7 linked regions of the Homo sapiens genome follow. The protein of the gene in region 1 purifies or fractionates together with the protein of each later gene. This does not show direct contact. Each region holds a gene or a part of one and is shown in the gene's direction. Other genes may lie near its edges.

Region 1 (2,585 bases):
CACTGTGCAGCTGTACGGCCCCACCAACTTTGCCCCCGTGGTCACCCACGTGGCCAGGTGAGTGCCGCTGCCACCGCCTCCAGGCACTCACAAGGCCTCTGTTTCCACACCAGCTCTGCCTCTGGGTGGTGGGAGGGGGTTTCTCTTCCCACGCACTTGCCTTTCAGGGAGCCCTGACCCTGAAGAGATTCCCCCAAGAGCTGTCACCCTCCAAAGTGTTCAGGGTCCTTGTTTAGGGGGGAACATGCCCAGAGGTCCCGCAGACAGACCTGAGCCCACACCTGCCCCACCCAGGAATGCAGCGGCCGTGCAGGATGGCTCCCAGTACTCGGTGCTGCTCATCATTACTGATGGGGTCATCTCGGACATGGCGCAGACCAAGGAGGCCATTGTCAACGTAAGCAAGGAGTGTGCGGTGGGGGAGGCGGTTTGAGGAGTGTCTTCCTCCCCGTTAGGGGAACCCTGGGGATGTGCCTACCTCCTTGACCTTAGGGAAATGCTTGGAGATGACTTGGGCGTGGCTTCTCATTTCCCTGCCTCACTGGGCCCCACTGCCCTCATCCACCTTCTGGCCTCTGGCTGCAGAGTCCGGTGCTGGATAGTGGATTCTAGCGGGTGGAAGGGGTGCCCAGATCATGAGAGATCTGGCTGGTGAGCTCTGTTCCCACCTCTTAGTCACGCTCTGGTCTACTCCCTCCAGACCCCAATGACTCCCTCATTAACCCATCTCTAGGACCGCTTCCCCCTTTCCCAGGCCAGCCTGGCCAGGTCAAAGGAGTGGGAGGGGAGGCTCAGAGTTGGGGAAGCTCAGGAACATGGCTCCCCAAGCCGGTGGTCTCCCTGTAAGAGGGGATGGGGGTGACTCACCAAAGCAGACCTATGACCCATTCCCCCTGCCACCCTCCCTCTCTCCTCCAGGCGCAGCCTGGTTTCCTTTGCTCTTTATCTCTGAGTGCCCTCCCTCTCCCTACCCCCTTTTCTGTGTTTCTCTGTCTCTCCATGTTCACTCTCCCATTTCTTTCCTGCCCACCCCTTCCTGTCCTACCCCTGATTTCTCCTTCCTTTTAACTGGGTCCCAATTGGGTCCAACCTTTCCCTGCCCCCCATGCTGTCTCCCAGGCTGCCAAGCTCCCCATGTCCATCATTATCGTCGGCGTGGGCCAGGCAGAGTTCGACGGTGAGTCCAGCTGCTGCCTTCCCCTCCTTTCCTTCCCTAGCCACGCAACCCTGCCCCCACCCCAGATGTTTCCCCAGAGGCTGTGGTCCCCTGGGAATGACCCCTCCCAAAAGAGTGAGAGCTCCCGCCTGGGCGTGTGTGTCTGGGTGAGTGTGCAGGGTGTGGGACGCATTTGTTTGCTCAGGGAAGGGTGTGTCAGGTCTGGGTGTGCACCCACACCCACATCCCAAGGCTGTGGGGAGGAGGCCCCAAGTCACTTCTTTCTCCTCCAGCCCTGGGAGTCTGGGGAGGGTGGTGAACCAAAGCACTGGGCTCAAAGTCAGAGGCTCACCTGATCGGGCTCCTCCTGGCCCCTGGCCTCAGTTTCCTCATCTCTAACACGGGGCATGGGCCAGTGGTCTCGGCCCTGGATTGGCCTGGGATGAAAGGACAAGTCCACTCTCCTGCTAGGGCCAGGGGTCCACCGTTAATCTCACCCCGCCCCATGACACTCCTCCCCTCACAGCCATGGTGGAGCTGGATGGCGACGACGTGCGGATCTCCTCCCGGGGGAAGCTGGCTGAACGCGACATCGTCCAGGTGAAGCCCAGGCCTTGCCTGCCCCATGGGAAATTCAAGAGCCCCTCTAGCCAGGCGGACCTCACACCCCCTTTGGGGGCTTCCCTGGTGAAGGGCCCAGAAGGGAGGCACTGGGAGCCCCAAAGTGGCCCAGCCACCACCGAAGGGAGTAGGAGTCAGTCCTCGGCCATGCTGTGGTCTGGGCTGGGCCCCCCTCTGTCACATCTGGGACACACTCCTAACATTGCGGGTGCCCAGCCAGAGGCCAGAACCCTCTGCCAGCCCTTCCTCAGCCTCCAGGCCTCTGTGGTCAGCCTCGTTCTGGTTTTTTTCTGCCCCTTGAAGGCTGAGGCAGTGTCTTTAGTGTTGCTGCAGCCTTCTCCAAGAATAGGCATTGCTCGGTTAACTGAATCAATGTAAGCATCTCCATGAACGGTGCAAATATAATGAGCAGAAAGACCTTTGTCCTCAGGGAATTCCCATGCAGTCTCACGTGGAAGAATGCACCCTCCGCAAGCACTTCCCCCACTCATCCCCTGCAGAGGAGGCCCTAGTGCTTAGGAGATGCAGAAGACAAAGCTGACATCCTGCATACCCCCTTGGTTTAAAAATTGGGGCCCAGTATCCCAGGTGTGGAGACCAAACATAGGGGGCTGGAAACCAGAGCAAGACAACCTGGGAGGTGGGACCGGCCCATGCTAAGGCCTGGAGGCAGGAGTGAGCCAGAAGAGGCGCTCAGGATGGAGGGCACCCCCGGGAAGAAGCCAGATGGGCCTGGCATTAGGCATTGGCCAGATTAGCCCCAGAGAGAAAAGGAACGAAGAGAGGCCAGAGAGAGAGGGCTCTGCTG
Region 2 (2,610 bases), on another chromosome or scaffold:
TAAGAAAGTAAATGTAATTTAGTAATACTTTATTCTGCCTTATTTCAAAATGCTTCAAAAATGCGAATCTGGAACTTCTCTGCATTGACCACTGTTCTGGAGTTGGGCTGATAGAAAACTGCGGTGAAGAGAGTTTAGATCAGAGGCTATGGCAGAGCAAAGTATTACTGATGTGTCTCTTAACAGTGAAGAGGGTCGGGGAGGAGGTTGGGTCCTTGTCAAGTGTCAGCTGCCCTATACATAGTTCTCTTGCCCCTTGTGCCCTGTTTTACTATTTCTAAGGTGGTTCCCATGATGGCATTTCTTGATAAGCCCACTTTGAGCCGTTTAATGTTTTGTAGGTGTTTCTGTGAGTCTGATAATACCAGCACTAAAAACAGTTCAGTATATAGACATTTACAAGAGGTCTTAGGCCTCTTCAGAATTCAGTTAATGTCTTTCTCTTTGAGGCTGCTGAATGTTAGGTAAGAATTCAGGGCAAGCATTCCCGACCATCATCAAATTGGAGACTTGGAGTTTCTATTGGCTGGAAGAAAGTTGACCCACAGGCAAAACCAGATGTAAACCAAGTTTGTCTTGGGTACTTTTCAAATTCTTTTCACAGCATCCTTTTCTCATCCCTCATGGTGGCCTCTGGCCCTGGAAAATCCTCATGATAGCAACTTATCAGGCCTGTTTCCTCTGATAGATCTGGACTTTTCCCCTTAAGTGCTTTCCTGTTGGGCTTCTCAGACTATGGAGAACTGCTCATAGTTGAGATCTAAGAGACAAATTACCCTATGGTGTTCAAGAATGGCCGTATTTAGTATACTGCCTGTCCTGGAAGTGTTCACATTTAAAAAGGCATGACTTTCCAATGGGCAAATATCAGACACCTACATGCATAGATAAGGGAAATATGTTTTACTTAAGCAAACTTCTAGGCATTGAATCTCAGTGTTTAGGTGCAGAGATGGAATTCCTATAAGCAATGCAGTCATTCACCACATCAGGAAGGCCAAAAAATGAACACTCTCGTAATTTTGTTATTATCTGGAAAGTTCTGATATGATAATGAACCTAAAATACTGAATAGATAGTGAACATCCTAAAATTCCACTGACCAGAATCCATTCCCATGGTCATCATCTGTAGAGGGCATGATACAATGACAGGCCTGAGGTATGATTATAATTCTGGAGTAATTTAAAGCCTATATTTGTTAAACTTTAACAGATGGACACACATTCTCTGATTTTCTACTTGGCTCTTTCCTGTACTAGAAATGCGCATTTAACTAAACCTTCCCAGCTTTTCTGTTCAGTGCCTGACTTACACTACTCCCTTAGGCAGGAGGACAGTGGGTGTCTGGGGAATAAAAGCCAAGAGCTCCAAACAGAGGATTTTGGATACAAAGGGCAGCCACCAGGAAATAGCTTTGTGAGAGGGACAGACTATCTGATTCCCATTTGTACAAACATGTCCAAAGCAAAAGCACAGCATTCTAAAGTGGATGCAGAAATTAGTATACAATGGCAGTTCTGGCCAGTGCAGCCCAGCATTTTTCTGTTGTGCATGGAAAGAACACAGTGAAAAGGCAGGCAGGGCATCCGGTGCAAAGTGCAACAGACATAGACACACAAATCCAGTTTTCCTGATGAGAGAGGGAGCTATCTCTTCATAAGTGATGCAATGCAATGCAGGCATGTACAAGTACAAGGAAAGATTTATTTTTAAAAAATCATAGTGTAACTGGATGAATACCAGCAACAGCACCTGCTAAAGCAAACAGCCTGTTCATTAAAAACTGGACTTGAGGGAATGGAGAAAGAATCTGAGGAGCCTGCAGTCAGCATGCTTGCAGAGACCTTATGGCTACAGAAGACGATGATTAACCCATAGAGGTTCAATGTAGTTTTCAAGAAGAGGGTGGGAAAGCATAAGATGGGGACTAAGACTTTGCCTTTAACCTTCATGACATGAAGAATTGAATGACTCTTTGTTGGAAAAAATGGCAGTTATGAGATAATTGGATCCATGTTAATTATATATATTTCTGTATATATAGTAAGTGGTTATTGATGTGCCTTTGTTAACCATTTCACTATTTAATAAATGTGTGTGTAGTTTATTCAAAGTGTTTCAGTCCTTCTCAATTTCTATGAAAAAAGTCCCAAGTTAAATCCACTTACGGGTAGTTATACTAGGAAAACTTGCACCCATAAGAATCCCTGCAAACAGTGGTCATAATTTGGGGCTCACAGAAAGGGCTGCCAATGAAAGTCAAGCGGTATTTGTTCTAACAATCACACCCCATTTTCACAATTCATATACAAAACCTCAGTGATAAGCAAGTGTTTACCATAAACTGAACTACAAGCCAGCGGTAGAGAACACTCTAATAAGCAACTCCTTTCTTCTGATGGACACCATCAGAAATACTAAAGAAGCCTGGAATCTCAGTGTCATTGGGATGAAATTCTGGATCCAGAGGAACACCCAAACCACTCAGGAACAATATCCAAGGAGTGTCAGGCATCCCAACATGTTGTCCTCTACTCTCCACATTCTGGAGAAATGTTCCTATGGGGGAAAAAAATACAGCTCTAGATATTGTTAGGGTGGCTTAGG
Region 3 (3,500 bases), on another chromosome or scaffold:
GCGGGAGGAAGAAGAGGCCTTTGCCAGCAGTCAGAGCAGCCAAGGGGCCCAATCCCTCACATTCTCCAAGTTTGAAGAAAAGAAAACCAACGAGAAGACCCGCAAGGTTACCACAGTGAAGAAATTCTTCAGTGCATCTTCCAGGGTCGGATCAAAGAAGGGTAATGTTCTGATACTCTTTTTTTTCTTCTCTGCCTGAGTGAGACACAGAGGAGATCCCCAATGCTCATAAGCTCAGCTTTGTAATTTCTGTCAACTTTTTGAGAACATCAGCTCAGATTTGACACTGAAATTGGGCTTGAGGGTCAGACAGTATATGAAATCAATACTCTCTTTGGTTGAAAGACATTGTGTTTTAGAGAAATTTGTTTATAGGAGGAATCAAGAGAATTGAAATAGGTACTTTTGCTTATGAAATTCATCCCCATCCAAATGACTATCTCTTTGGATGTTTTGGTTTTTGTGCCTTTATTTGTGGATCCTGGTTTGTTCTGTGGTATAATACCCTCACTGTTCATAGCTTGTCAGAAATGGTGATTTCTAGGCTTGATAGTCATCTGAGAGAGAGATTTTCTGCCTGAGAGCTTATTTGAGAGACAGCTTGTGTCTTGAGGAAGTGTATTGAGAACATATAGGAAAAGGCCCAAGTTGGGCTCTTGGGGGGATGAAAGTGAGCCATAGTAGCTATTTTCCAGTGCATGGATTTGTATGTAGGTGATCATATTCACCCTGCTTTTTAAAATGCCATATAACCAGCAAGAGGATTGTCACTTAAGTCACAGTTGTTCTACCATTGAGCAGACTAGCTAGTTGAAGTGGCCCAACATGAAGCAAGAAAGACTCTTTGTTGTTAGGCCTCAGTCTGTCTTTGAAAATTTATGTTGGTACTCAGAGTTATGCAGTCAAAGCGAAATAATGAGGGAGACTGGGAACCAACACTGATGCTGTCAGAAGACCTGTTCTCTGGGAGCCCCCTCACTTGCTCCCCAGTTCCTACCCTGGGGTAATTGTAATGAGGTCTCCCCTGAAGGCCGGGGAATGAATAATAAGACAGTGTTACTTCTTAAGATACTTGCTGGTCTTCTAGGTTTTGTGACTTTTGCTGTTTCCTTTTGTTTTATTAAAAGGAAATATTGCTCATAACCAAAAACACACCTCTCTTTAAGACATGGATACCAGACCTGGTGCGGTAGCTCAAGCCTGTAATCTCAGCGCTTTGGGAGGCCAAGACAGATGGATTACCTGAGCTCAGGAGTTTGAGACCAGTCTGGGCAACATGGTGAAACCCCGCCTCTACAAAAAATAGAAAAATCATCCAGGCACAGTGGCATGTGCCTGTAGTTCCAGCTGAGGCCAGAAGGCTGAGGCAGGAGAATCATTTGAATCTAGGAGGAGGAGGTTGCAGTGAGCCGAAATCGTGCCATTGCACTCCAGCCTGGGTGACAGAGCAAGACCCTGTCTAAAAAAAGGAAAGAAAAGAAAAAAGATTGATTACATGATTAATTTGAAGTTGTTTCTTGGTTGGCTGCCAGTTGTAGCAATTTTATCTCTACGAAAAAGGGGGGAAAAATTAGTACCTGCCAGAGATTAAATAAGAATGTATTGGGCTCATGATTTATTTATTAGGAGGTGGAATAGCCAGGTAGTAAGGTGACTTTGGAGTCACTCCTGGTTTGAGCCCTAGCTTTGTATTTACCAGCTTTGTGACCTTGGACAGACTAACCTCTCCGAGTCCTGTCCACACTGAGGGACAATAATACCTACCAGAGGCACGTGATGAGGATTCAGTGAGTTAATGCATGTAAAGAGCTTAGCACAGTGCCTGACACACACAGTAGATCTCCAGTAAGTGTTAGCTGTTTTAAAATGCAAGTTATTCTTCTGATAGAATTATCTTGCAGGGAGCACAAGGGCATTTGCTATGAAGAATACTCATTCCTATTTAGCTTAAGGTCTGTTTCTTGATGATATGTAGTGAAATGATAAGTATTTATGATAACAGATGAAATAGTAAAACAAGTATAAAATTATCAGCTCCAATAGCCTCATTTTGCAGAGGACAGTGTGAAAGTCCATAAAGGTTAACTAATTTACCCAAGGTTGCACAATGAGTTTGTGCATGAGAACTCATGTCTCCTAATTCCTGGGTCAATATTTTTCCATTATATTCCTTTATCCAATGTGTATACTTCAGAAGCCCAGGTTATTTAATATATATCATAAATAATATATATATATGAAATTAAGTTTCTGTTACTTAAGTACATAATTGTCATTTATATTTGCTAACTCTCCTTGGTGGTTTTAAAAACCTGTGTCCCAAAAGCCTCTGTACAGTGTGCATTATACTATTGAAAGAAAATTTACAATTCAATGCAGAGTCTGTACTTTAAAAAGAAACATTTCTGGAGCTGGGTGCAGTGGCTTCTACCTACCTATAATCCCAGCTACTTGGAAGACTAAGGTAGGAGGATTACATGAGCCCAGGAGTTAGTGGCTGCAGTGAGCTCTGATTGTGCCACTGCACTCCAGCCTAGGCAGCAGAGTGAGACACCAACATTAAAAAAATTAATTAATTAATAAAGAATCCAGGTGAATTTTGTTTTAAAAATATGTATGCAGAATGATTTTTACCTTTGTTCTTGTCTCCCCTCATCCCCCATCTTTTTGAATGATAGATTTGTACTTTAGATTGTTTGTTCTTTAGTTGCTTTTTGTCTGTAGAAAGCTTTGGGGATAAAGACCTTAAAGTATTTTAAAAATTCATGTTAGAAAAGAAGATTCCATTGTATCTTTGTTTCACAGATCACTTAATATAACTTAGCCAGGTAAATTTTGCATTTCACACTGATTACTTTTGTTTGGCCATTGTGTTTGGATAAGATTAGCCTAAGTGCCGTTTTAATGTATTAGGTCTAGACTAGAAACAGACTTTTTGGATTCTGTATTCTTGAATCTTCCTTAGTCCATGATACCCTTGCTGTTGGTGTTTTACTTGCTTCTGTTAGTAGCATAAAGGAAAGTTTTTATGCCATACGTAGCAGCTTGGTAGCAGACAAAATACAAATAACCTTCTAAGGAATTTGAAGAATATCTTCACATTCTTTTAGAGTTGGATACGCCTTCAGAGAAAGTAAATGGAATGTCTTGACTGTAAAGACTCAGTTAAAGTGTTTTAGTCTCTACAGTCAGGGTGAGTGAGCTGTATAGAGGAAGTCATAGTGGTTGACCAAGCTGAGATACTTGCTTATACATTCCAAAGTGCCCTTTTCTTTCAGAACTCCTATAATGTTGTCATTCCAAGTAGAATCTTGTGTACCTCTTTCATGAACGGATCTGAAGACGGTGATTCTCTAAAGCATATCTTTTCATTTTTAGAGTTAAAATACCAATACCACCCAGACCTTAGAAAGTAAACCTATTATTCATTAAAGTGAATCAGGGCTTCTTGGAGAAGTGACTGATTCTGGGGCTAGAGTAGGGAAAAAAGGGCCCCTTCA
Region 4 (4,199 bases), on another chromosome or scaffold:
ACTGGTCTATAACTCTTGACCCCAGGTGATCCACCGCCTTGGCCTCCCAAAGTGCTGGGATTACAGGTGTAAGCCACTGCACCCGGCCCAGACTTTCTTTTTCTTTCTTTCTTTCTTTCTTTTTTTTTTTTTTTTTTTGAGGCAGAGTTTTGCTCTTGTTGCCCAGGCTGGAGTGCAATGGTGCCATCTCAGCTCACCGCAATCTCTGCCTCCCAGGTTCAAGCAATTCTCCTGCCTCAGCCTCCCAAGTAGCTGGGATTACAGGCATGTGCCACCACGCCCGGCTAATTTTTTGTATTTTTAGTAGAGATGGGGTTTCTCCATGTTGGTCAGGCTTGTCTCAAACTCGTGACCTCAGGTGATCCGCCCACCTCAGCCTCTCAAAGTGCTGGGATTAAAGGCTTGAGCCACCGCGCCCGGCCCAGACTTTCAATCTCAGGTTTATACCACTGATTCTGGGTCTCAGGCCTTTGGGCTTGGATTGGAAGTGCACCACCAACTTTCCTGGGCCTGCAGTTTGCAGATGGCAGATCGTGGGACTTCTCAGCATCCATAATCTCGTGGCCAGTCCCTTGTAATAATAATAAATTTATATATCTCTATATATCCTATTGGTTGGTTTCTCTGAAGAACCCTAAGACACCATCATTCTGCAAATATCCTTGAGGCCTGCCAATTGTGGCTTCAGGGTTTAAGAAGACATGGTTCCCTCTTGAATTACAGGCAAGTAAACGAGATTACAAAACATTGACAAAGGCTTGGATCATGCTGTTGGACCTTTGCTTGAGCTGTTCACCGTCCGTTGTTACCTCTGTGAAGCTGACCCCAGGCCTAACCAAATGTTCCTTTTATGCTGTTCTGGGGACGTCTTCTGCATGTCACTTAACCACATAGTATCACACCTAGTTGGTTGGTTCTGCATTTTCCTTCCCCACTAGACCGCAAACTCTCAGCTGTTGTTGGTACTATTGAGCTTAAGTACAGGGCCTCAAAAGGAGCCGGAGTACAGGGCTAAGCGCTCAGTACACAGGGTACGAACCAATCAATGCAAGAATGAACGTGCCACCGGGTCTTGCAGGCTTGAGAAGTGTTTCTCCAAGCTGATTTTGCTTTCCGTGCCCGGGCAGCTCCCGTGAATTGCACGGTAGAGGTCAGGAGTTTCTGGGGGGTCCGTGGGGAGCCAATGGAAGGATGAGGAGAAATGCAGTCCCACCGCATTCGGGTTGCCCACGTCCGGCGAGAGGCGAGTGATCGGACAACTTCTGCACCTCCCGGAAGCGGCTGCGCCGGCCCCGCCCCTCCAGAGGCAGGCGTGGCCTCATGAATAATGAATCGTGCGGGGGAGGGGCCGGGCCCGCCCCTCCGGGCGGGAAGAGGGAAGCGCCGAGGCTGCCTGACTGGAATGAGGGTAGCTGCGGCGACTGCGGCGGCTGGAGCGGGGCCGGCCATGGCGGTGTGGACGCGGGCCACCAAAGCGGGGCTGGTGGAGCTGCTCCTGAGGGAGCGCTGGGTCCGAGTGGTGGCCGAGCTGAGCGGGGAGAGCCTGAGCCTGACGGGCGACGCCGCCGCGGCCGAGCTGGAGCCCGCTCTGGGACCCGCGGCCGCCGCCTTCAACGGCCTCCCAAACGGCGGCGGCGCGGGCGACTCGCTGCCCGGGAGCCCAAGCCGCGGCCTGGGGCCCCCGAGCCCGCCGGCGCCGCCTCGGGGCCCCGCGGGTGAGGCGGGCGCGTCGCCGCCCGTGCGCCGGGTGCGGGTGGTGAAGCAAGAGGCGGGCGGCCTGGGCATCAGCATCAAGGGCGGCCGCGAGAACCGGATGCCGATCCTCATCTCCAAGATCTTCCCCGGGCTGGCTGCCGACCAGAGCCGGGCGCTGCGGCTGGGCGACGCCATCCTGTCGGTGAACGGCACCGACCTGCGCCAGGCCACCCACGACCAGGCCGTGCAGGCGCTGAAGCGCGCGGGCAAGGAGGTGCTGCTGGAGGGTGAGCGGGGCCGGGCGGGAGGGTGGGCAGGCCGCGGCGGCCTGGGCTCGCGGGAGCTCACTTTGTTCCTGCCCCGCCGGCGGGGCGAGCCGGTTCTCTCCCCGTCTCTCTCCAAACCCGGGTTTCTGGAGCTTTCAGTGTGGAAAAACGGATGCTTCTTGCAGGAAAAGTTGGGCAGCCGCCGAAGTGTGGCTTGCAGCCCCTAGGGAAGACTCGGCTGAGATTGAGTAAAAAGCAGCTGCCTATGAAGCCCCACCTCGGCCCGATAAGCTGACACTAAGAACTTGAGGGAGAGCGAACGGCTCGAGTGGGTCTGTCTCCGTTTGCCCGCTGAGAAGTGCCGGGTTGGCGCTTAACTCACTCACCTCTGGCTCCTCGGGGCGGGCGGGTCTATTAAAAAAAAAAAAAAGTCCATCTTCACCGATGCCAGCGGTATGCTCGGGCAAACCACCAAAGCGCTGGTTAATTTATGGGAATTTAACCCATCATTGGCTCTCAACAATAACCAAAGGAGATCATAGCATTTCATTGAAGCCAGAAAGCTGAAACAGCAAGTCTGTGTGGTTAACGAACCTTGTTTAACAGTGGAGGCTCACGTGTTTGAACATTTACTGCCAACTAGAGTTTTGCCCCTTTTGCAAGTCTGCTGCCAGCTTCCTACCACTCACAGGCGCGCTGCTTCAAGACTCTTGGGGTTTTTGTAAGAAACTTGAAATGGCAAATCACAAGATAGGTTTCAATAACCAGGATTATTCTTTACGTTAAGTTATATGTATGTGATCTGTAAGTTGGATCTTTCATGATGAATTTGAACTAAGGCAAAAATAAAATTCCTCTCCTCTAAGGACTCATGCATGTTGGAGGTGATAGAGTATTGTAAATTATAAACGAAAAGTCAGCTGCTTTCTTCAGAAATTTTTGAGCGGTCAGCTTTCTTTCACTGGTGATTATGGCTAGCTGTGTTGAAAAGAATATAAAAGAAGATGCTGTCCCTACTTGGTCTCTAGTTGGAGAAATGATAGAAAAATGCAAAACAACTTATAGGGAGGAAAGGAATGAAGTTGGTGATTACGTCGTGAAACTATACTTAAATGCCAAAGGAATGCAAAGTTAGAAAATAGTTAGTGGAGATGGAATTAGCCAGGGAGGACTTTTTCCCGAAGCTGAATCTTGAGCCAGGTCTCCAAGAAGTGATGGACATAGGCAGGCAGGGATGAGTCAGGAGGGTATTCCTGGCAGAGGAAGGACAGAAGGGAAGGGCTGGGGGCTGCTGGTGAAGAAGGACCAATCGTCAAACCGAGAGGCCAGAAGTCCAACTTGGCACAATGGATTTTCACTTTCTTATAAATCAGCTTGTGAATATTTGGAAAAATACTGATTTACCAGAAATGATTTCATGTACACCAGTTGTGAAGTTCCAGTGTCCCACCTTTATAATATCCTATTTATAAACCTTATTTATATTGCATGTCTAGGTGGGGCTAGACATTGCTCGGAAATTAGTGTTAATAGAAGGAGTAAAATTATAGATTGTGGTTTGGGTGTGTGTCCAAAAAAAACTGTTACTCTAAACGTGTACCTTGAAGTTGGTCTAGCTAAGCATTTGGTTATAAATTCTTACATCCAGAATATTGAATTTAGTACTATTTATGTAGTCCTCAGTTGTGATGGGCAGACAGTTGAACCTTGTACACCATATTTAGAAAAAAAACACAAAAAACCTTTTGGCCAGGCGTGGTGGCTCATGCCTATAATCCCAGCACTTTGGGAGGCCAAGGTGGGCAGATCACCTGAGGTCAGGAGAACATGACGAAACCTCGTCTCTACTAAAAATACGAAAATTAGCCAGGCGTGGTGGCAGATGCCTGTAATCCCAGCTCCTAGGGAGGCTGAGGCAGGGGAATCGTTTGAACCTCAGAGGTGGAGGCTGCAGTGAGCCAAGATCTCACCACTGCACTCCAGCATGGATGCCCAGCCTGGATGACAGAGCAAGACTCCATCTCAAAAACAAACAACCAACCTACTTTTTGTATAGGTATAGTTTGAACCTAGTATTCAGACCAGTAAAATGAAAACCTTGCAGTAAATGCTTCCCAGTCTTTATTGGGCTAAAATAGGCCACGTGTGCTTTTAGAAAGATGGCCGCATAATAACATGTTTATTGAATGCCTTTTTACCTAACATGCAGGTTCTACTTTATTTTCCCACTTTGTACAA
Region 5 (3,500 bases), on another chromosome or scaffold:
TATCTCAGGAGTGCATCTTGTGGAGCAAGCTGAATGTAGAGAAATTCAGACCTTTCAGTGCAGGCAGGCCCCTTCCTCACTTACCTCGTCTTCCATCTGTACTTTGTCCACAGCCGCTCTCTCCCTAGGCCTGACCGACCACCTCATTCTGAAACTTCCCTGGAGGTCTGGAGCGGAATCAGCCAGGAAAGCTCTGGACCTTCCCCTGCTGCCTTTCTGCTCTCTCCTGTTTGATTTGTTTTTGAAACCTATTCCCTCCTTTTGTCCGTGACCAGGCTCTGATTTCACCTGAAGTTCATGACCTGAGTCTGTCGCCTCTTCTGCTCCTTGTGTTCAGCTCATCTGTGACTTCTTTCTCAGTCTCTCCATCACCTCACCAATTCAGTGACTTCCCAAAGACCTTTACCTCGTGGCATTTCACCTTACATAAAACCCAGGAAAGAGAGAGAAAATAAAAGGCCATTCACGTATCCTCCTATCTCCAGGAATCCCCATGACTCTACCAGTTACGTAGGGGCCAGAGAGTCACTAACGATTTCACAGCGGTGGGGTCTCCATGTTTTGTGTTAAACTAATGGTTTCCCTCCCTAAGCGCTGTAGGTCACTCACACTGATGGCTCTCTTTTGTTTCTTTCCACCTAATGTAGTGCTTTTAAATACCTTGAAGTAGCTTAACAGGATTATTAAATAAAAAGATAAAGCAGTTTTTCCACGGACGATTCAAACACATACACTTATTCAAACACTCTTAGGGAAGGCAAGCCTTGGGTATTTTTCAGCCCTTCGTAGGAGAAAGCTCACATGTTTAGGGTTGTCATGGGACTGGACAGAGCCCCCAGCTCTGCTCTCAAGTCTGCCTGTTTTCATACAGACCAAAGTGAGTGTATAGCCCAGCTTCGTCTTTCCAGTCAGTTAAGGTCAGACGCTGCCTCTCTTGTTTGATGGTGCCACCCTCTCCATTCTAGCACTGTTTCTCAACCCCCATCAGAAGCACGGCCCCGCTCTGTACACATAAACAGAAGAGGCGACAGCCTTCAGGATGACCTCACAGGTGATTAGAAGGCGCTTTCCCTAATGCAGCTCCCCACAGATGTCAGAAATCCCACTTTTAGAGGAAATTTCTCAGGGAATTTCGGGCCATGGGAATTAACTACACTTGTACTTCATGGCCACTTATTAGAGTTTATGCAAAATAAGTGGCTTCTGCGTTCATCGTGCTAGGGTGAGAGGTCATTAAATACCATTAAGTGGAAAGCACATAGAGACCAAATAGCTTCACAAAAATGTAAAGCTTATAGGAATCCTCAGCAGTGTCTCATAGTAAGAAAGGATGGTTTCAACAAAATTATGTAGTGTAATTTGGAAGGTGCCTTAGAGAGCACATTGTCCAGTCCCTTACTTTAGAGATGTAGCCTGTGCTTATCAGAAAAGTGGTCTGCCTAAGGTCGTGCAGCTTGAAGGGGGAAAGCTGGTCCTAGAACCTGGGTCTTCAGAGCATCAAGCCAGAGATCTTACTCCCCTCCAGGACAAGATAGCAAACCCAGAGTCCCAGAGGCCCCTTTCCCTGATGCTGTCCTCTCAGTCACTGAAGCCTGTAGGTAGACGTGGACCAAAGCCACACATGGCACGGTATCCCTCTAACATGCAGACATAAACTCCCTTTACATGTGAGGGTGCCAATTTCTCAGTGAATGGAATAGCTTCACCCATCACCAACATGTTTTTACTGTCTCCTTGACAGTGACTTGACAGGTTTTTGTTCCAATGAGAGGACATACTCAGATTATCTTTACATATATTCTATACAGTGTATACATACTGTATATACATAGCTTGTAGTCCTCATCTTTATAAAGTTTTTTCACAGATAATCGAATCCTAGAATTGGAAAGGATCGAGGCCACAGGCACAGTGGCTCACACCTGTAATCCCAGCACTTTGGGAGGCTGAGGCAGGTGGATCACCTAAGGTCAGGAGTTTAAGACCAGCCTGACCAACATGATGAAACCCCGTCTCTACTAAAAATACAAAATTAGCCTGGCATGGTGGTGCATGTCTGTAATCCCAGCTACTCGGGAGGCTGAGGCAGGAGAATCGCTTGAACCTGGGATGCAGAGATTGCAGTGAGCCAAGATCGCGCCGCTGTAGTCCAGCCTGGGCAATGAGCAAAACTCCATCTCAAAAAAAAAAAAAGAAAAGAAAAGAAAAAAATTGTAAAGGATGTTAGAAGTCATTTAATCCAACTCGCCACCCAATAAAACAGTCCTCTGAATATTTCCAGCGAGCTCATTCATGATCAACTCTAATCACTGGAAACTTCTTCCTCAGTGGGGAGCCAAAATCTCACTTTCTGTAACTGATTTATCCCTGTCCTCTCAAGCTACCCAGGATAAGCTCAGTCCCTCCTCTGCAGGCTCGCCTTTCACGGGTTGGATGGCAAATGACAACCCTTCCTAGTTTTCTCCTCTGTAGACTGCTACACCCAATTCCTTCAACCTTTCCAAACGTGACATGGTTTTCTCTTACCAGCCTGCTTGACCATACCAGGATGTGGCCATTTTCCAAGGCTCCTATTCAAAGTACATGCCCAGGGCCCAGCACCCTGCTCTCCATCACAGGGGATCTTGTCCCTGCAGAGCACAAGGCATCTGTGACCCTCTTGAGTGTCCCCTGGAAAAGCACCTTAGACGGCATTAGCACTTCCCACATAGCCACTTTGCACTGTGCGGTCATTTTAAGTTTATCATCAGCTAAAACATACGGAATTTTTTTTTTTTAACAGAACCCCGTGTTAATCTAGGTATTCCCCCACCATATATTGTATGGTCACTTTCTTAAACCTGAATGCAAGACATTAGATGTCTCCCTGGTCATCACCACCTGAGGGCAGACAGGCATAGAACAGAGGCACGCAACCCCACACTGCACGCCCCCAGCCCTGGTCAGGAAAGTGAGCGATGTGACCGCACTGCTCCCTTTGGGCTGTGGTCTTACGGGCTCCTATTCAGCAGTGCTGGGGCGTGGGCCGCACAAGTGCAGACTGGTGAGCTGAAGCACCCTCAGAGGCCTGCAGCCAGGAGCTGTTAGCTAGAGTTTCCTCCCAAGCCTCAGCAGTTGCTTTGTTCACCCTCCTTCTGTACTTGTCCTGTGCCGAAGGGTCACTGGCCTCCTTGGACTTGTTTTCACAGCAGAGGAAGGTGCAGAGGAAGAAGAAGAGAAGATGCAGAATGGGAAAGACAGAGGTAAAGGCAGCTCAGCAGGACTGCTCGTTTAAATGGGGAGCCCGAGCTCATGGATCAGCCGCCCCCCACTTTGTTTCTGCATTCCTCCCTGCCACCACCTTTCCCAGAGCTTTCGGACCCGAGGTCCCTGTACCTACTTTTCCCATCTGACAGTCAGGTTTTACCTTCCAGGTGACAAGGTCAGTCGATCACCAAGAGCTTCCTCATTTCCTGATCCTGGGATAGGTAGTTGGGATACAGGAAGTAGATACAAGTAGA
Region 6 (3,500 bases), about 110 Mb from region 1:
TTGAGGGTATTGAAATATTCAGAAAGGAAGAATAGATCTAACACTCTAAGACAGAACTGGATGATTAAAAAAATTATTTTTGAGATTACTTCTACTTACAAACATTTAATTTTCATTAAGGATCATATGATAGCTGTATATAAGAACAACAACTCATACTATCCTAGTAAATATTAGGGCCATGATATTTCACATAAGCTGCTGTGAAAGCCATAGTCTCTTAGTTCATATCCAGGTTGTAACATACATATTCGTATCACAAATTAGAGAAAGAACATTTCTTTTATAGGAAGGTTGGGTATGAATATTAGGTGCTTCCAAACACATATTAAATAATAACTGTTGATGTTCAGCCCATGAATAACATCAAGCTTAACCCAAAAGTGCTGTAAATAGTAGTTTGATATGTATGTACACCTATAGAATTTGTTTTAGGCTTTGGAAAAAAAGAGACTCTGATGTTTGTGTATTGATAGACATTTTTCTTATGTTTTATATTCTTAATTGGCAGACATTGCTGATTCCTAAAAATGCTTTAAAATTATAATAAATAACACATTTTTATCTTCTGTTTAATGCATCTTATGGGAAACCTTTACATTTTTGTATTTCAACATTATATATAGAAAGAAGTAATAATTAGTAATTCAGCTGCATGGTACATAAGATCCTAGTGGGACATTTTCACTGTTATCATTAGTAATTATTATTTATTTATAAAGAAAGCTAAAGTCTTGGATGAAAGCTTTTATGGTCTTTTCTTAGTGGCCAGAATATATATATTCTGCTATTTATATTTGTGTTGGGCAACTAATGATTCAATTTCTCCTTTGTGCAGGCAGAGAGCAAGCAGATTTCTTTGGAAAAGCAACTCCAGGTGCTGCGGGAAACTGACCAGATGCTTCAAGTCTTGCAAGAGAGCTTGGGGGAGCTGGACAAACAGCTCACCACATACCTGACTGACAGGATAGATGCTTTCCAAGTTCCACAGGAAGCTCAGGTATTGCCGTGCATTTGAGGGCTTTTGAGCTGTAAAGAGAGCTTTTGTAATTGCCTCCTCAACTATAAGAGAACCCCTCCTGCTCTCCAAAACCGAGAGTCAATGGGAAAGATTGACCTTACTTACAGGGCAGCATTTGGGTTTTGGAGTTCTCTTGCTTTCTATGTGAGACTCTGGCAAAAGTCTTATATAGTTTATTTTATTTTATTTTATTTTATTTTATTTATTTATTTGAGACAGAATCCCACTATGTCACCCAGGCTGGAGTGCAGTGGCACGATCTTGGCTCACTGCAACCTCCGCCTCCTGGGTTCAAGTGACTCTCCTGCCTCAGCCTCCCGAATAACTGGGACTACAAGCACGCGCCACCACGCCCGGCTAATTTTTTGTAGTTTTAGTAGAGACGGGGTTTCGCCATGTTGGCCAGGCTGGTCTTGAACTCCTGACTTCAAGTGATCTGCCTGCCTCGGCCTCCCAATAATTTTTGTATTTTTAGTAGAGACGGGGTTTTGCCATATTGTCCAGGCTAGTCTCAAACTCCTGACTTCAGGTGATCCACCTTCCTCGGCCTCCCAAAATGCTGGGATTACAGGCGTGAGCCACTGTGCCTGGCTGAAAAGTCCTGTATATTTTAAATTGTAGTTTTCTTAGCTGTGAAGTTGGGACAATTCCTTCCTTATAAATAAGTTGTGAACATTAGAAACGACAAATGCAAAGCCCTTAGCAGGTGCGTCATGTACAATAGTCATACCATGCAGTGGGCCATATTATTATTATTATACAAAAACGTATTATTATTATTTTTTAGACGGATTCTCACTCTGTTGCCCAGGCTAGAGTGCAGTGGCGCGATCTCGGCTCACTGCAAACTCTGCCCCACAGGTTCAAGCAATTCTCCTGCCTCAGCCTCCCGAGTAGCTGGGATTATAGGCGCCCGCCACCGTGCCCAGCTAATTTTTGTATTTTTAGTAGAGATGGGGTTTCACCATCTTGGCCAGGCTGGTCTTGAACTCCTGATGTCGTGATCCACCCGCCTCGGCCTCCCAAAGTGTTGGGATTACAGGCATAAGCCACCGCACCTGGCCTACAAAAACTTATTAAAGCTTCTGTGGAGGTCAACATTATGTAAAATACGATATCATGTATTACACAACGATATAGAACTTTTGTATTGTCTCTTTTTATACTTAAGTAAAAAAAAAAGGACATCCTCTCCCCTTTCCAATCTCTTTTTAGAAAATCCAAGCAGAGATCTCAGCCCATGAGCTAACCCTAGAGGAGTTGAGAAGAAATATGCGTTCTCAGCCCCTGACCTCCCCAGAGAGTAGGACTGCCAGAGGAGGAAGTCAGATGGATGTGCTACAGGTAAAGAAGGCCAGGAGCTTCCTTTTACTTTTCAACTTGTTGGGAATTTTCTTCAAAAAAGAGAAAGAATTGATTACTTGGGCACCGTTTGTATTCTTTGTGATGTAAACCATGGGATGGGAGTGATGATGTGTTGAAGGTTGCATCCTAGGGCAGCAGAAACAAATTGTTGCATGTGTGGAAAAATATGAAATCTGATTTTGATAGCTGAGATGAGAAACAAGAGAGTGAGCCAGATTTAGAAGTTAGCTTTATATACACTTTTTCTTTAATGCAGAGCCTCTGTCAGTATCGTGTGGCTGATGCTGTGGGCAGGCCGAGCATGAATTGGATGCAGCATCATTTAGTTCTTTCATGGTTGATATGACATTGACTTTCACTCTGAACTTGTGATGAAGGGCATTTTGAGTTCTAGGTTCCTGAACTATCTTTTTGAACATGAAGTTTTAATTCCAGTGAGGTCAGCTTTATCTAAATTTCTTATCCAAATCTATTACTTCTGAGATTGAGACACTGAGTGTTGTAATTTTTGACACTGGGCTATGCAGTTCACTTAGGTGATCGGGTACCCTCACTGAGATTCATTAGGAGTTTTTTATTTTGGGTCATATTTCTGAATTTTTTTCTTTTGGTACTTTATGGTACAAATTTTTAGTAGTATCTGTTATGCTCATGATGAGAGAGATAATCATCCTGATGGGAATTGCATATTTTCATTTCTGCAAACAGAGGAAACTCCGAGAGGTGTCCACAAAGTTCCAGCTTTTCCAGAAGCCAGCTAACTTCGAGCAGCGCATGCTGGACTGCAAGCGTGTGCTGGATGGCGTGAAAGCAGAACTTCACGTTCTGGATGTGAAGGACGTAGACCCTGACGTCATACAGACGCACCTGGACAAGTGTATGGTGAGGCTTTTGGGTGATTGGCACATCCAGTGGCTTTTTCAGCAGCTGTTATGGCTTGGTCTAGCAAGTACATGCCTAGTGTGTCCAGTGATCACTAGTCTACAGTGTGCTAAACATAAGGATTGATGATGGAAAACGTGTTAAAAAATAAGAAGTGTGGTCTTTCCCTCCAAAGAAATTAGAAGAGATAAGAGAGATAGCTAAGGAAACTAGAATAGACATGTATATAACA
Region 7 (2,390 bases), on another chromosome or scaffold:
TTATAGATGATTATGCAGCAAAAGATTATTGCTGAGGATGGTTTTTACTGTTAGCCTTTGATATACTTTGTTACCACCTTCTTTTAGAAATTAATCAATGGGGATTGACAGATAAAAAAAGAATTATAAAACAAGATCATACTATATATACCTGCAAAAATTTAAGCAATCCACTAATTGTTAGACATTTAATTTATTCCAACTCTTTGCAGGACAGTGAAAATGAATTAGGGGGTAAAAAGTTACAAACACAACAAAATGCTTAAGAGACATAAAAGGTTATCAGACTGGGTCATGACACACTAAAATGTCCAGAGTGTGAAAAATCAAAAAGGAGCTTTTCGTTTTCTACCAAGTAGTAATGTGGAACAGTTTGCTTTGGGCCAGATCCCTTATGAGTGTTTTGGTATTGTTGGGACTTGGTAGTGTGGGTAGAAGCTCTAAAGGTAGAGTTTCATCAAAGAGTATACCTGAGTTTTAAATATGGAGGACAGCTGATGCAGTAGCTTTGTGCCCAGTGATGGAAAGAGTTGAGAGGGACAGGCCACCTTACTACAGAGGAAGCACAGCCTCCTGGCAGAGCATGCAGCCTGGTGCTAGGCTACCTGGGTTCAAATCCCAGCTCTGCCCCATGCCCTTAAAGCAAGTTACTTCTCTATCACTCAGTCTCCCCATCTATTAATATAAGATGGAGATTAATGATGATAATAGTGCCCAGTCACAGGATTGTTATGGGAATTACATGAATTTAATATATGAAAAGCACTTAAAACACAACTTGGAGTGTTCTAAGTGTTAGCTATTGTGCTTTTTCCCCCTTCTCAGCTTGAGTTAGATATAGCAGGATATTCAGCTTCCTTAATGATCAAAGATTTTCTTTATAATTGACACATAAAAATTATATATATTTAAGGTATACATTGTGATGATCTAATATACACTGTAAAATGATTACCACAATCAAGCTAATTAATACATGTCACCCAGTTACCTTTTTTTGTGTGTGGTGAGAACACTTAAAATCTTCTTAGCAAATTTCAAATATGCTATACAGTATTATTAACTGTAGTCACCATGCGGTATATTAGATCCTTAGAATCTGTAAATTATAATAACATAAGTTATTTATCTTATAACTGAAAATATCTACCATTTTTTTTCTTTGAGACAGGGTCTCGCCCTGTCACCCAGGCTGGAGTCTGCAGTGGCGTGATCATGGCTCACTCCCATCTCTACCTCCCAGGCTCAAGCAATCCTCCCACCCCAGCCTCCTGAGTAGCTGAGACTATAGGCGCACACCACCATGCCTGGCTAGGTTTTGTAGTTTTTGTAGAGACGGGTTTTTGCCACGTTGCCCAGGCTAGTCTCAAACTCCTGGGCTCAGGCGATCCACCTACCTTGGCCTCCCAAAGTGTTGGGATCATAGGTGTGAGCCACTGTGCCTGGCCAAAATGTGTACCTTTTGACCAAGATCTCCCCATTTCCTCCATCTTCTGGCTCCTGGCAACCATCATTCTACTCTGCTTTTGAGTATGACTTTTTAGATTCCACAGAAGTGAAATCACATAGTACTTGTTTTTCTGTATCTTGCTTATATCACTTAGCATTAACGTCCATTCATTATCCATGTTTTCACAAATGCCAGGAGTTCCATTGTTTTATGGCTGAAAAATATTCCATTGTGGAATAATATTCCATATATATATATACACACACAGACACACACACACATTTTCTTTATCCATTCATTCACTAATGGACACTTAGGTTGTTTCCATATCTTGGCTATTATGAATAATGCTAAAATGAACATGGGAGTGTAGGTATCACTTCAAGGTACTGATTTCACTTCCTTTAGATTTATACCCTTAAGTGGAATTGCTGGATCAGATGGTAATTCTATTTTTAATTTTTTGAGGAATTTCCGTATTTTCCATAATGTCTGTACTGGTTCACATTCTCAATTTAAATAATAGGGCAGAGAAAGAATATATTATAGAAGTGATTTTTTTTTCAAAGGGGAAAGAGGGACCAGGGACTAGAGAATTTCAGTCCCACTGTAGTAGTACTTCCAGAAATGTCCATATGAAGGATATTTTGTTTTGTTTAGAGAATATCTAACTGTAAAATATAAACATCATTTAGCAAATCTCGCATTTTTTTTACATCTAGGTTTTTCTAAAAAAATGACAGCCTTTTTCTTCCTACCACCATCTTTGAAATATTGCTTATTATATAGTCTTACTACTTTGTCACTCTTTATTATAAGCTGGGCATTCTGTCATTTCTCAAAGCAATTTTTAGGACATAATACCTCATTCTTTATAGTCTGTACTCTTCCTCTCTCCCACTATTTTATATTTTATATATATGTATATATATAAATTTTC

Evidence for each region.
Region 2: the proteins of CPNE5 (region 1) and MBNL3 purify together in Homo sapiens (affinity purification with mass spectrometry; 2 studies listed by BioGRID and IntAct, with this or other methods). This does not show direct contact.
Region 3: the proteins of CPNE5 (region 1) and RABGEF1 purify together in Homo sapiens (affinity purification with mass spectrometry; 2 studies listed by BioGRID and IntAct, with this or other methods). This does not show direct contact.
Region 4: the proteins of CPNE5 (region 1) and SNTB2 purify together in Homo sapiens (affinity purification with mass spectrometry; 2 studies listed by BioGRID and IntAct, with this or other methods). This does not show direct contact.
Region 5: the proteins of CPNE5 (region 1) and DTNB purify together in Homo sapiens (affinity purification with mass spectrometry; 2 studies listed by BioGRID and IntAct, with this or other methods). This does not show direct contact.
Region 6: the proteins of CPNE5 (region 1) and UTRN purify together in Homo sapiens (affinity purification with mass spectrometry; 2 studies listed by BioGRID and IntAct, with this or other methods). This does not show direct contact.
Region 7: the proteins of CPNE5 (region 1) and DHRS7 purify together in Homo sapiens (affinity purification with mass spectrometry; 2 studies listed by BioGRID and IntAct, with this or other methods). This does not show direct contact.

The regions. Positions count from the first base shown.
Region 1 is NC_000006.12:36,742,860-36,745,444, reverse strand, and holds part of CPNE5 (copine-5), read left to right. Parts: coding exon 1-57; intron 58-294; coding exon 295-397; intron 398-918; coding exon of another isoform or gene 919-1,068; exon of another isoform or gene 1,069-1,113; intron 1,114-1,119; coding exon 1,120-1,177; coding exon of another isoform or gene 1,178-1,323; intron 1,324-1,682; coding exon 1,683-1,756; coding exon of another isoform or gene 1,757-2,155; exon of another isoform or gene 2,156-2,194; intron 2,195-2,585. UniProt on the Homo sapiens protein: Probable calcium-dependent phospholipid-binding protein that may play a role in calcium-mediated intracellular processes. Plays a role in dendrite formation by melanocytes.
Region 2 is NC_000023.11:132,368,820-132,371,429, reverse strand, and holds the end of MBNL3 (muscleblind-like protein 3), read left to right. Parts: 3' UTR 1-2,110; downstream 2,111-2,610. UniProt on the Homo sapiens protein: Mediates pre-mRNA alternative splicing regulation. Acts either as activator or repressor of splicing on specific pre-mRNA targets. Inhibits cardiac troponin-T (TNNT2) pre-mRNA exon inclusion but induces insulin receptor (IR) pre-mRNA exon inclusion in muscle.
Region 3 is NC_000007.14:66,775,233-66,778,732, forward strand, and holds part of RABGEF1 (rab5 GDP/GTP exchange factor), read left to right. Parts: coding exon 1-161; intron 162-3,500. UniProt on the Homo sapiens protein: Rab effector protein acting as linker between gamma-adaptin, RAB4A or RAB5A. Involved in endocytic membrane fusion and membrane trafficking of recycling endosomes. Stimulates nucleotide exchange on RAB5A. Can act as a ubiquitin ligase.
Region 4 is NC_000016.10:69,185,765-69,189,963, forward strand, and holds the start of SNTB2 (beta-2-syntrophin), read left to right. Parts: upstream 1-1,399; 5' UTR 1,400-1,402; coding exon 1,403-1,982; intron 1,983-4,199. UniProt on the Homo sapiens protein: Adapter protein that binds to and probably organizes the subcellular localization of a variety of membrane proteins. May link various receptors to the actin cytoskeleton and the dystrophin glycoprotein complex.
Region 5 is NC_000002.12:25,383,578-25,387,077, reverse strand, and holds part of DTNB (dystrobrevin beta), read left to right. Parts: exon of another isoform or gene 1-716; intron 717-965; coding exon of another isoform or gene 966-1,015; exon of another isoform or gene 1,016-1,051; intron 1,052-1,867; exon of another isoform or gene 1,868-2,012; intron 2,013-3,188; coding exon 3,189-3,242; intron 3,243-3,500.
Region 6 is NC_000006.12:144,487,835-144,491,334, forward strand, and holds part of UTRN (utrophin), read left to right. Parts: intron 1-838; coding exon 839-1,000; intron 1,001-2,236; coding exon 2,237-2,365; intron 2,366-3,094; coding exon 3,095-3,268; intron 3,269-3,500.
Region 7 is NC_000014.9:60,146,009-60,148,398, reverse strand, and holds part of DHRS7 (dehydrogenase/reductase SDR family member 7 isoform 1 precursor), read left to right. Parts: intron 1-177; exon of another isoform or gene 178-2,390. UniProt on the Homo sapiens protein: NADPH-dependent oxidoreductase which catalyzes the reduction of a variety of compounds bearing carbonyl groups including steroids, retinoids and xenobiotics.